2 separate regions of the Homo sapiens genome follow, and region 2 is linked to region 1. Evidence: fine-mapped expression QTL. Tissue or cell type: whole blood. Region 1 holds a variant in brackets; the other region holds the start of a gene. All regions are shown on one strand. Distances are between the middles of the regions.

Evidence for each region. PIP is the estimated chance that this variant, and not a neighbour inherited with it, causes the effect.
Region 2: it holds the start of ASRGL1, and the variant in region 1 is fine-mapped to the expression of ASRGL1 in whole blood (TOPMed, PIP above 0.99).

What each region holds. Positions count from the first base shown.
Region 1 is chr11:62,390,926-62,396,075 of GRCh38, forward strand. ASRGL1 (asparaginase and isoaspartyl peptidase 1) reads left to right here. Exons shown (of 7, transcript NM_001083926.2): 6 at 597-707; 7 at 1,154-2,487. The coding sequence ends at 1,359. Among named protein-coding and RNA genes, the nearest start is that of SCGB1A1, 26 kb to the right of the region's middle. RefSeq lists enhancers at 3,946-4,015, 4,126-4,175. The variant G/T (reference allele first, on the strand shown) is at 2,328.
Region 2 is chr11:62,334,898-62,340,047 of GRCh38, forward strand. It overlaps ASRGL1 (asparaginase and isoaspartyl peptidase 1), which reads left to right and starts at 2,551. Exons shown (of 7, transcript NM_001083926.2): 1 at 2,551-2,677; 2 at 2,993-3,270. The coding sequence starts at 3,081. RefSeq lists an enhancer at 2,462-3,131.

The DNA.
Region 1 (5,150 bases):
GGCTGTAAGGTTGCTTAATCCAAGCCCAAAATAAGGAAGAAATCTTATCAAAGTAGCTTTCACTCCAGACCCCCACTTAAGTGGATAGCCCAGAATAGTTCCCTCAGGTCCAATTATGCCCACCCTCAACAAATATAACTGCCCTCCATTAGACAGTGTGCATGGATGTTAGGTTGTGGGTATCATTTTCCCCAAATCACTGGAACATGATGGCCTTGCTAGAGATCCATATAATGCAGTCATGCTGTTTCTTCCTCCATAGTGTGTGGGGCATGAGGAGGAGACAGGGAGAGGGTGGCTTCATTGAGCAAAAAGGAATGGCTGTGCTTTGGGGCCAAGGAGATGCTGTCCTGCTGTAGCTGCTCTGTGAAAGGTCAGGCCTGCCCCTCTGAGGCTCCCTTTATCCTCCTAAATTCTGGGGCATCTACATGACGCTTTCTAGTCCACCTTTGCCTCCGCAGATCATGGCTACTAACCTGACCTTTGTCGGTACTTGAGCACCCTTCGCGATTTAACTTTCATGTAGCGTCCGACTTCTAATATGGATTTGAATTTCTTGACTGTTACTGCTCAGAACAATCACCCTTTTTGAGCAGGAGCTGGAGGTTATGCCGACAATGACATCGGAGCCGTCTCAACCACAGGGCATGGGGAAAGCATCCTGAAGGTGAACCTGGCTAGACTCACCCTGTTCCACATAGAACAAGGTACACAGACCACAGGACAAGTAAAATAATTTGTGAAGATAAGTGCATAGAAGGTATTTGATAAGTAAGCGCATGGAGAAGTGTAGGAAACCCTTTCCTGTTGGCTACAGATGTTGCTTTCAGGCCGTTAACACCTTGTTTTGACTCTCCGCCTTCCCTTAGGTCTGGAATGGTAGAGCATTGAGTACTGTTATCTTCCACATCTCAGGAGAAGGGGGCAGTAGAGAGACATTGAGCCTGGATGTGGGAGGGAAGACCCCTCTGCTCAGGCTGATGCTAGGGCGCTGTCTCAGGGCAAGGAGGTGAGGACCCTCCTTTTAAGCATTCAGGCGTTCATTTACCAAAAATCCTTGCTAGCTCACTTTGGCATTTCAAATGGCAAGTGATTTTCCCATGAGATTCCTTTCAGTAATGTGTGTTGTTTCTCAACCCTTCCTTGTTTTCAGGAAAGACGGTAGAAGAGGCTGCGGACCTATCGTTGGGTTATATGAAGTCAAGGGTTAAAGGTTTAGGTGGCCTCATCGTGGTTAGCAAAACAGGAGACTGGGTGGCAAAGTGGACCTCCACCTCCATGCCCTGGGCAGCCGCCAAGGACGGCAAGCTGCACTTCGGAATTGATCCTGACGATACTACTATCACCGACCTTCCCTAAGCCGCTGGAAGATTGTATTCCAGATGCTAGCTTAGAGGTCAAGTACAGTCTCCTCATGAGACATAGCCTAATCAATTAGATCTAGAATTGGAAAAATTGTCCCGTCTGTCACTTGTTTTGTTGCCTTAATAAGCATCTGAATGTTTGGTTGTGGGGCGGGTTCTGAAGCGATGAGAGAAATGCCCGTATTAGGAGGATTACTTGAGCCCAGGAGGTCAAAGCTGAGGTGAGCCATGATTACTCCACTGCACTCCAGCCTGGGCAACAGAGCCAGGCCCTGTATCAAAAAAAAAAAAAAAAAGAAAAGGGAAAAAAGAAAGAAAGCAGCAGCATGATCCTGACATGACAGATGTGGGAGACCCACAGCCTGCAGACACTGTGGGCTGGAAGGTGGGAAGGGAGGGGCCGGTGGAGGTGGAGCTGTTTGAAAGTGACACAGCAGCAGTAGAAGCAGTGGTGGGCGAAGCCCAGGTGACCCTCAGAACGTTGCACAAGAACATCAGGGAAAAGAACCAGAATCCTTTAAGGAAAATGTTCTTCATGTATGAGAGACTAAAGTGATTTTTCTAAGAAAGTTCAGCCCTTCTCTGACTTACCTGGACATTTCTAGATACTTCCAAAGGACCCTCTGGGAATCCATAGCTTCCTAATCTGGAGATGGGAGGTCATAAGGGAGACGCTGTGGGGTTCCTTGAAGTTTCTTGGGTTCACAGAGGAGCCCCCTCACTTGGTGTTCTCCCGTGAGCCAGCCTCCACCTGCCAAAGACACTCTGGTCCTCGTATAGTGAGTAATGGGGCTCAGGGCCTCTCCAACAACAGAGAGGAGCTGATGCTGTAGGGCTGACCCCGTGACTTCCTGAGTCCTCACCCTGTCCAGTGCTTTGAGATTCTTCCCACCTCCCCATCCTCACCAGCCGGATCGGGCGCTGTGCAGTGTGGTCAGCATGGTGAAGAAAGTCATTTCCTCG[G/T]TGGGCAGTATTCCTCTTTATCTCTCATTACACTGGAAATGTTATTTCTGCTGTATCATCCGTGCTCAACGTTTTAGTCTGTCAGGCTCACCTTCTCTCTGGAAAGAATTTGCTTAACTTGACATTCCATGTGCCGCTAATAAAATATATTTTGAAAGAATAAGGGTGTGGTTGGGAGTCACTGTTGACAAAGACCAGAATGTACACGAGCTCCCCCCTTGGTCTCAGGTGTACTACAGAGACCTCGAGATGAGGATGGTGTGGAGGGTGATATGTGCCACCTTGTGGAGTACTCGTGAGTTTTTCAGAAGAACTGAACTTTTTCTGAGTGGGTCAAGGAAGAAGCCAAACCATGATAGGGTTTATGGCGCAGTCTTCCTGCAGTTTGCCAGCATTCACCCCAGACAGAGGTGCACAGTAAAAACCTCAACATGCAACAACTCCCCCTTTAGAAACAAGTATTTTATTAGGAGGTGTATTAGTTGAAGATTGCCACAACACGATTCCACAGACTAAGTGACTTAACCAACAGAAATTTATTAATATTTTCTCAGCTCTGGAGGCTAAAAGTCCAAGATCAAGGTGTCGGCCACGTTGGTGTCTCCCGAGGCCTCTCTCCATGGCTTGTGTAATAGCTGGCCATCTTCTCACTGTGTCCTCACATGGTCTTTCCTCTGTACGTGCACAGCCCTGCCATCTGTCTCTATATGTCCTAATCCCCTCTTCTTATGAGGACACCATATTAGATATAATTTATATATTATAATATATAAATTATATAATATATAAGTTACAATATATCTAATATGGTATATTTATTATATATTATAATTTATACAATATATAATATATATTATAATTTACATATATATTATATATAATAAAATATATAACATTTATATAATACATATATATTATATATCATATAAATATATATACTATTATATATAATATATGATATATAATATTATATATTTTATGTATTATATATAATTTGTTATATATTATATACTATATATTATATATCATATATTGTATATATTATATATTATATAAAAATATATGATATATAATTTATAATTTATAATATATATTATATATAATATGTAAATTATAATATTAGATTAAGGTCCACCCTAATGACCTCATTTAACCTTAATCACCTCTTCAAAGGCCCTGTCTCCAAATACACTCACATGCTGAGGTACTGGGGGTTAGGGCTTCAGCATGTGAATTTGGGAGAGGACAGAATTCAGTCCATAACAGGAGGCAAAACAGAATCATGTTGGGGTTTGGAAAGGGGAGACCCTTTGGAGAAGACAACAATCGCTAAGGAGATAGAAAAAAGGAAGGAGGGAGCTGGGGGATAGGGAGGCCAGTTGGAAGATCTGGTTTTGAGCTTGTCTTACCAATTCTCCAGTTCACAAGGAAATTTACTCTAGTTATTAAAGATTACCGTAGGCTCAGCTTGTGGCCACTTGACCTCTTTAGCTGGGCAGCCCAGGTGCTAGGGTACGTATGGGGTCGTCAGCCCCTTTGTGCAAAGCCAAAGTGTGTATTTTTGCCCTCAGACCTGAGTTGTACCAAAAGCCACCTCCACCAGCCTGGGAGTTCTGTAAATGGAGACCACGTACAGTTCTTGCTTTTGCCCCACAGCTTGTCCATGGCTCACTGTCAAACAGAGAAATGAGCCTGACAGCATCTGAAAGGGGAAGACAATCTTTTTATCACTTCTGTGCCACAAGAGGGCAGCAAACTATAAACTATCCATGGCTTCAGCCGCCCAAAGGGAAGGTACTCTATCTGGATCAGAGCAGTCTATTTAGAAAATTTGGAACCAAAAGAACATTCCTCTTCCTGACCTTCATTTTCGTCCAAATACTACAATTTATTTTAGAGCAGAATTGTCCAAAACACAAACGCTAGCAAATGGCCCGAAGAACCCACCCAGATCAACAGTGGAAGCTCGCTCTGCCCTGGGCGCTGCCAGATGCCGGATGCCAGATCCCACGGTGAACAAGCTCTGGCAGCCCGGCCCCGCCCCCACTTGCTCCTTCCAGCCAGGAAGACAGATACATCGTCATGTGGCTCACCCACCAAAATGGTGGGATAATAAGGAGCACAAGACGGGCCCTGAGCCAAGGCCAAGTGTCCCCAAGCAGGAGTTGCTGCAGTCAGGACTCAGCCCCACTGCTGGGCTGCAGAGAAGAGTCCTGGGTAAGGAAGGGCCTTGATCTCGTAGCTGTTGCATAATACACATTTTTCTCAAATAATATTCCTAGACTTCTTCCTCTCTAGCTTGAGGGATTGTAAACTCTGAGACCAAAGGAAGGAGTGGGGCACACGTTAGTCCCCTTCAGTGTCCTGTTGTCAGAGGTGATGGTGTGTGGGGAAGGCTGGGAAGGGACACTCGTTCTTCCCGCCCCCCACCTGCTCCTCTGAAGTCCTCCCATCAGCCTTCATCTTTGCACAAAACCATCACTGCATTTGGATTTTGTAGCTGTTTCTTTTTTTTTTTTTTTTTTTTTTTTTTTTTTGAGATAGAGTCTTGCTCTGTCACCCAGGCTGGAGTGCAGTGGCACGATCTCAGCTCACTGCAACCTCCACCTCCCAGATTCAAGCAATTCTCCTGCCTCAGCCTCCCGAGTAGCTGGGATTACAGGCGCCCGCCACCATGCCTGCCTAATTTTTTTGTACTTTTAGTAGAGACAGGGTTTCATCATGTTGGACAGGCTGGTCTCGAACTCCTGAACACAAGTGATCCACCCACCTCGGCCCCCCAAAGTGCTGGGATTACAGCACCACCGCACCCGGCCTTTGTAG
Region 2 (5,150 bases), 56 kb before region 1:
AGTTAGAATCACTTCCTTGGGGCTCTAGTCAACCTCCCCAGTCACACAAATGGGTTACTCCTCCCTTCAAAAATCCCTCTAAAATGATAGTAAACAATCTTAAAAAGAATACTACCCACAAAGACAGGAAGAATGGGAGAGATGACAATGGCAGGTAAAAAAGGTCACTTTGGAAGATGAATAACAAATGGCAGATTAAAGGAAGTTGTAATCTACTTGAGAGGTGAATCCATTTGTTCTGGAGAACGCTTGAGAGACTCAGGGCTTAGACACACAGGAATCTCAAAGATGGGGAGGCAGGAGTGGCAGGTGTTCCCAGTTGTCTCTCCAATAGCCTGTCACCCTTCCTTCTTGCCAAGAGACCTTGATTTTATCCAGGGCCATGATGTACCCTGCTAAAATAAAAACTCAGACTCTCTTGCCACTAGGGGCAGCCCCCCAATCCAGTTCTGGCCAATAAAAGTCCACTTGGAGGACTTCTAGGAAAGCTAGAGAGCTTTCCTGAATTAAAGGAACAAAGGGGAGCTGGCAAAAGCCTTCTTCCCTTTGCCCTTCCCCATTCCTTCTGCCCCAATAGTGATCAAGGTGCCTAGGAGCACCATAAATGTGAAAGCCACATGCTGAAGGGAAGAGAAGGAGATGGGACATCTGTGTCACCTTGGAGCTGCTGCACCAGCCTGGGCAGCAACCACTAGATGTCTTGTTGTTGTTGTTGTTGTTGTTGTTGTTATTGTTGTTTTCAAATCAACAGTTATCTGGTTAAACCACTGTGGTCACGTTTCGTCAGGGACAGTTGAATACAATCCTTAATCCATAAAATGATTGTTGATGGAACATCGTCTACAGAGGAGTTAGCCAGATTCCTTCTCCTATCCCACAGAGCCGGACAAAAAGATGCTTCCTCTTTCCTCCTCAAAGACCAGAAGTTTATTTTCTAGAGAATTTATCTAAGAGACTTTGGATTGGGATGGGGAATACGAAGCCCATCAGAGAAGTAGATAAACGCATGAGGCTGAGATGGGAGGATCAAATGGAAACCAACATTCTACCTGCTTGGGCCACCAGCCACCTTCCCCAGCCTCAGCCAGATCACTGAATTCCAGATCAATCAGGAAAAACAGTAGAGATGGGGTTTGAGTTAGGGCTAGGCATAGGGTAGGGTTCAGGTTCCTATAAATAGCTGAAACCAAATGATGGTGAGCTGTATTATGATGACACAACTAGGCTCACGACCAGTTGAGACGTGCTAAAATAACCCTCTTCCAAGAGGTGAGTGTGGGAGACAGAATAACGGCCCTCAAAGGTGTCACATCCGAATCTCCACCTGTGAACACTCCTCACATGGCAAAAGGGACTTTGCAGATGAGAATAGAAATTGTAAGAAAGGGAGATTATCCTGGGTTATCTGGGTGGGCCCAATGTCATCCCAAGGGACTTCCTTTAAGAAGGAGGCAGGAGAGTCAGAGTCAGAAAAGAAAATCGTGATGATGGTGACAGAGAGAGAAGTGACGTAGCAGCAGAAACAGGCCAGAGGGAGAGAGAGTTAAAGATGCTAGGCTGTTGGCTTTGGCAATGGAGGATGAGGCCATGAGCCAAGGATACAGGCAGCTTGTAGAAGCAAGAAAAGACAGATTCTCTTCTGGAGCTTCCCGAAGGAACTCAACCCTGCAGACCCAGTTTGAATTTCTGACCACCAGAACTGTAAGATAATGTGTGTTGTTTGAAGCCAATAAATTTGTGGTAATCTCTAACAATAGGTCACTAGAAAGGGAATGACTGATCCTTAGTGGGGTGCCAGGGAGAAGGCTTTGCAGGAGGGGTTCATTTAAACTGGGCCTTAAGGCAGGAAACGAAGGTAAAACAGGAGTAAAGGGAATTCCCAAGAGTGGTAAAATATGTTATCAGTTGTGGGTAAACAAGAAGGGAAAGGACTCTCCTATCCACAGGAGATCAATCACAGTTTGCCTGGATCTGTCCCTGTTTATGCCCATTGTCCCAGTATAATTTTTTTTTCTTTTGATTCGGAGTTTCACTCTTGTTGCCCAGGCTGGAGTGCAATGGCGCGATTTCCACTCACCGCAACCTCCGCCTCCCAGGTTCAAACGATTCTCGTGCCTTAGCCTCCAGAGTAGCTGGGATTACAGGCATGCGCCACCACGCCCAGCTAATTTTGTGTTTTTAGTAGGGACAGGGTTTCTCCGTGTTGGTCAGGCTGGTCTCGAACTCCCGACCTCAGGTGATCCGTCCGCCTCGGCCTCTCAAAGTGCTGGGATTACAAGGCATGAGCCACTGCGCACAGCCTAGCGTTGCTTTTCAATCTGCAATTACAAAATCGTGGCATGCCACTTCACGCTTCTCGCCACCAACCCAACCACCCAGCCCCTAGCCTGGTCAGGAGCAGGAGGTTCCCCGCGTGCCACCAGGAAGCTCGGGCCGGCCAAGAGCGTAGACTCTTGAGAGGAGTGAGACAGGTGCGCGCCAGCCGGCCTTCGGGGCTTTATGGGAACTGGGCCGTGCGGCGGTCCCGCCCTCGTGCGCAGGCGCAGAACCGTTGTGACCAGAGCGGTTGCGGGCTGAGCGGTTTCGAGCCGGCGTCGGGGAGCGGCGGTACCGGGCGGCTGCGGGGCTGGCTCGACCCAGCTTGAGGTCTCGGCGTCCGCGTCCTGCGGTGCCCTGGGTAAGTCGGCGGCCCTCCCGGAGCAGCCGCCCGAGACGCGGGAGGGCGAATGAAATAAACGAAAATAGACATTTTCCCGAAGGCGAAATAGACATCCTCCTTCGGCGCCGGGGCTTGGAGGCGGGCGGCGGTGGGCGCGGGTTAACGTCCCCGGGGAAACTGAGACCCCCAGCAGGTCCGGGCCGGGGGCGGAGAGGAACGCGGGAGGGCGCCGGGCCCCTGGGCTTTTCGTACCAAGCTCGACCGAGCCGCCCCTACCCACCCCCAGCTGCGAACCCAGCCGTTCAGAACAGAGACTGGGCATTGTCCCCACAGGGTCTCCCGAGGACCTTGTACCCGCGCGGCTTCCTTGGGCTGGCTTTGGACGACGCTTTCGCCTTCCTGCTGCCTAGGATCCGCCGACATGAATCCCATCGTAGTGGTCCACGGCGGCGGAGCCGGTCCCATCTCCAAGGATCGGAAGGAGCGAGTGCACCAGGGCATGGTCAGAGCCGCCACCGTGGGCTACGGCATCCTCCGGGAGGGCGGGAGCGCCGTGGATGCCGTAGAGGGAGCTGTCGTCGCCCTGGAAGACGATCCCGAGTTCAACGCAGGTAAATGTGCCTTTCAGCTAGTAAATAATGTGAGTCAGGTCAAGCTCCTTCTTCAGAATAAATAGAACCTACATAGTGTTAGGGAATCTAATGAGCTTTGGGGTGAAACTAAGTATGTAAAAAAGAAACAATATTTAATTTTTCTACCTGTGCTGAAAAGAGTCAAACGCTAAAATATTTGTAGAGATTTATACTGAGGCAAATATGAGTGACCAATGGCCTCTGATACAGCTCTTGGGAAATCCTGAGAATGTGTGCTTCTGGAGAGACATAAGATGTCAATCAGTACATACAAGACATACATTGGTTCCATCTGGAGAGGTGAGACTACTGGGGGAGGGGGAGTGGTTTCCAGGTCATAGTTAAGATTCAAAGATTTTCTGATGAACAATTGATTTAAAGTTTTGTCCAAACACCTGGAATCCACAGAAGGGAATGTCTGGATTATATAAGGACTTGTGGCTGCAGATAGAATTAATAGAAGGCGGTTTAGCACGGTGGCTCACGCCTGTAATCCCAGCACTTTGGGAGGCCAAGGCGGGTGGATCACCTGAGGTCAGGAGTTCGAGACCAGCCTGGCTAACAGGTGAAAAGCCACCTCTACTAAAAATACAAAAGAAAAAAAAAAAAAGCCAGGCGTGGTGCTAGGAGCCTGTAACCCCAGCTACTCGGGAGGCCGAGGCAGGAGAATAGCTTGAACCTGAGAGGCAGAGGTTGCAGTGAGCCGAGATCACTCCAGCCTGGGCGACAGAGCGAGACTATCTCAAAAAAAAAAAAAAAAACTGAAAAAAGAAGGGAATGTCTGCATTAAGATAAGAGGTTGAGGAGACCAAGATTTCCCTTAGGCAGAGGAAGTCTCCAGGTAGCAGTCTATTGAGAGAATAAATTGTAAATGTTTCTTATCAGAGTTGATTCTCTCCTGAATCAGGAAAAAGGCCTAGAAAAGGAAGGGGATTCTCTTCAGAATGTAGATTTTCCCCACAAGAGATAGCTTTAGCTTTGCAGGACTATTTCAAGATATGGCGAAGAAACGTAATTTGGGGTAAAATACTTCACTTTCAGGGCTTGCTATCTGTCATGTGATGTCATACTAGAGTCCCGCTGGAATTTGGTATCTTATTGCTACAAAGTCTGCTTTGTCAGTCTTAAGATCTGTTTTAATGTTAGTGCTGGTCAGCTGGGCCTGAATTCCAAAAGGGAGGAGGGAATAATGAGGCATGTCCTACCTCCCCCGACAAGGTTCCAAAGTTTTCAGGTTAACTTTGGAGTGCAGAGTGTATTCCTTTGTGTTTCGCTTCTTTCACTCAGTCCACCCTTTTTTGGAATACTAATCATTATAGCTAATATGAGTATCTACCATGTATCAGGCAGTGGTCTAAGAAATTTGCTTGATTTATTGAATCTGAACATTAAATGAGTTGATCATGTAACTCTCTTAAGTTGGTTAACTTGTGTTAAACTAACTCAAGTTAACTCATAATGAACATTAAATGATTCACTTATGAGTTAATCACTTAAACTCAGTTGAGTTAAATGAGTTAGGTATAAGTTAGGCATAATTATTATCCTCATTTCTCAGATCAGACTAAGGCATAAACAGATTAACTTGGTGGAAGACATTCATCTCTTTGTTTTAAAATGGCAAACCTAAGATCTAGGCTAGAGATTGAAATACTTCCTGGAATTATACCACCCATCTGTCAGGGAAAAGAATTTCAGGAAATCTTAATTAATCATCAAATATTTACTCTTGTTCTGTCCCCTTTACGCAGCACTCTTTAACACTTGTGAAAAATTGTGTAATTCTTCCTGAGACCGGTGCAGTGGCTCACGCCTGTAATCCCAGCACTTTGGAAAGCTGAGGTGGGCGGATCACTTGA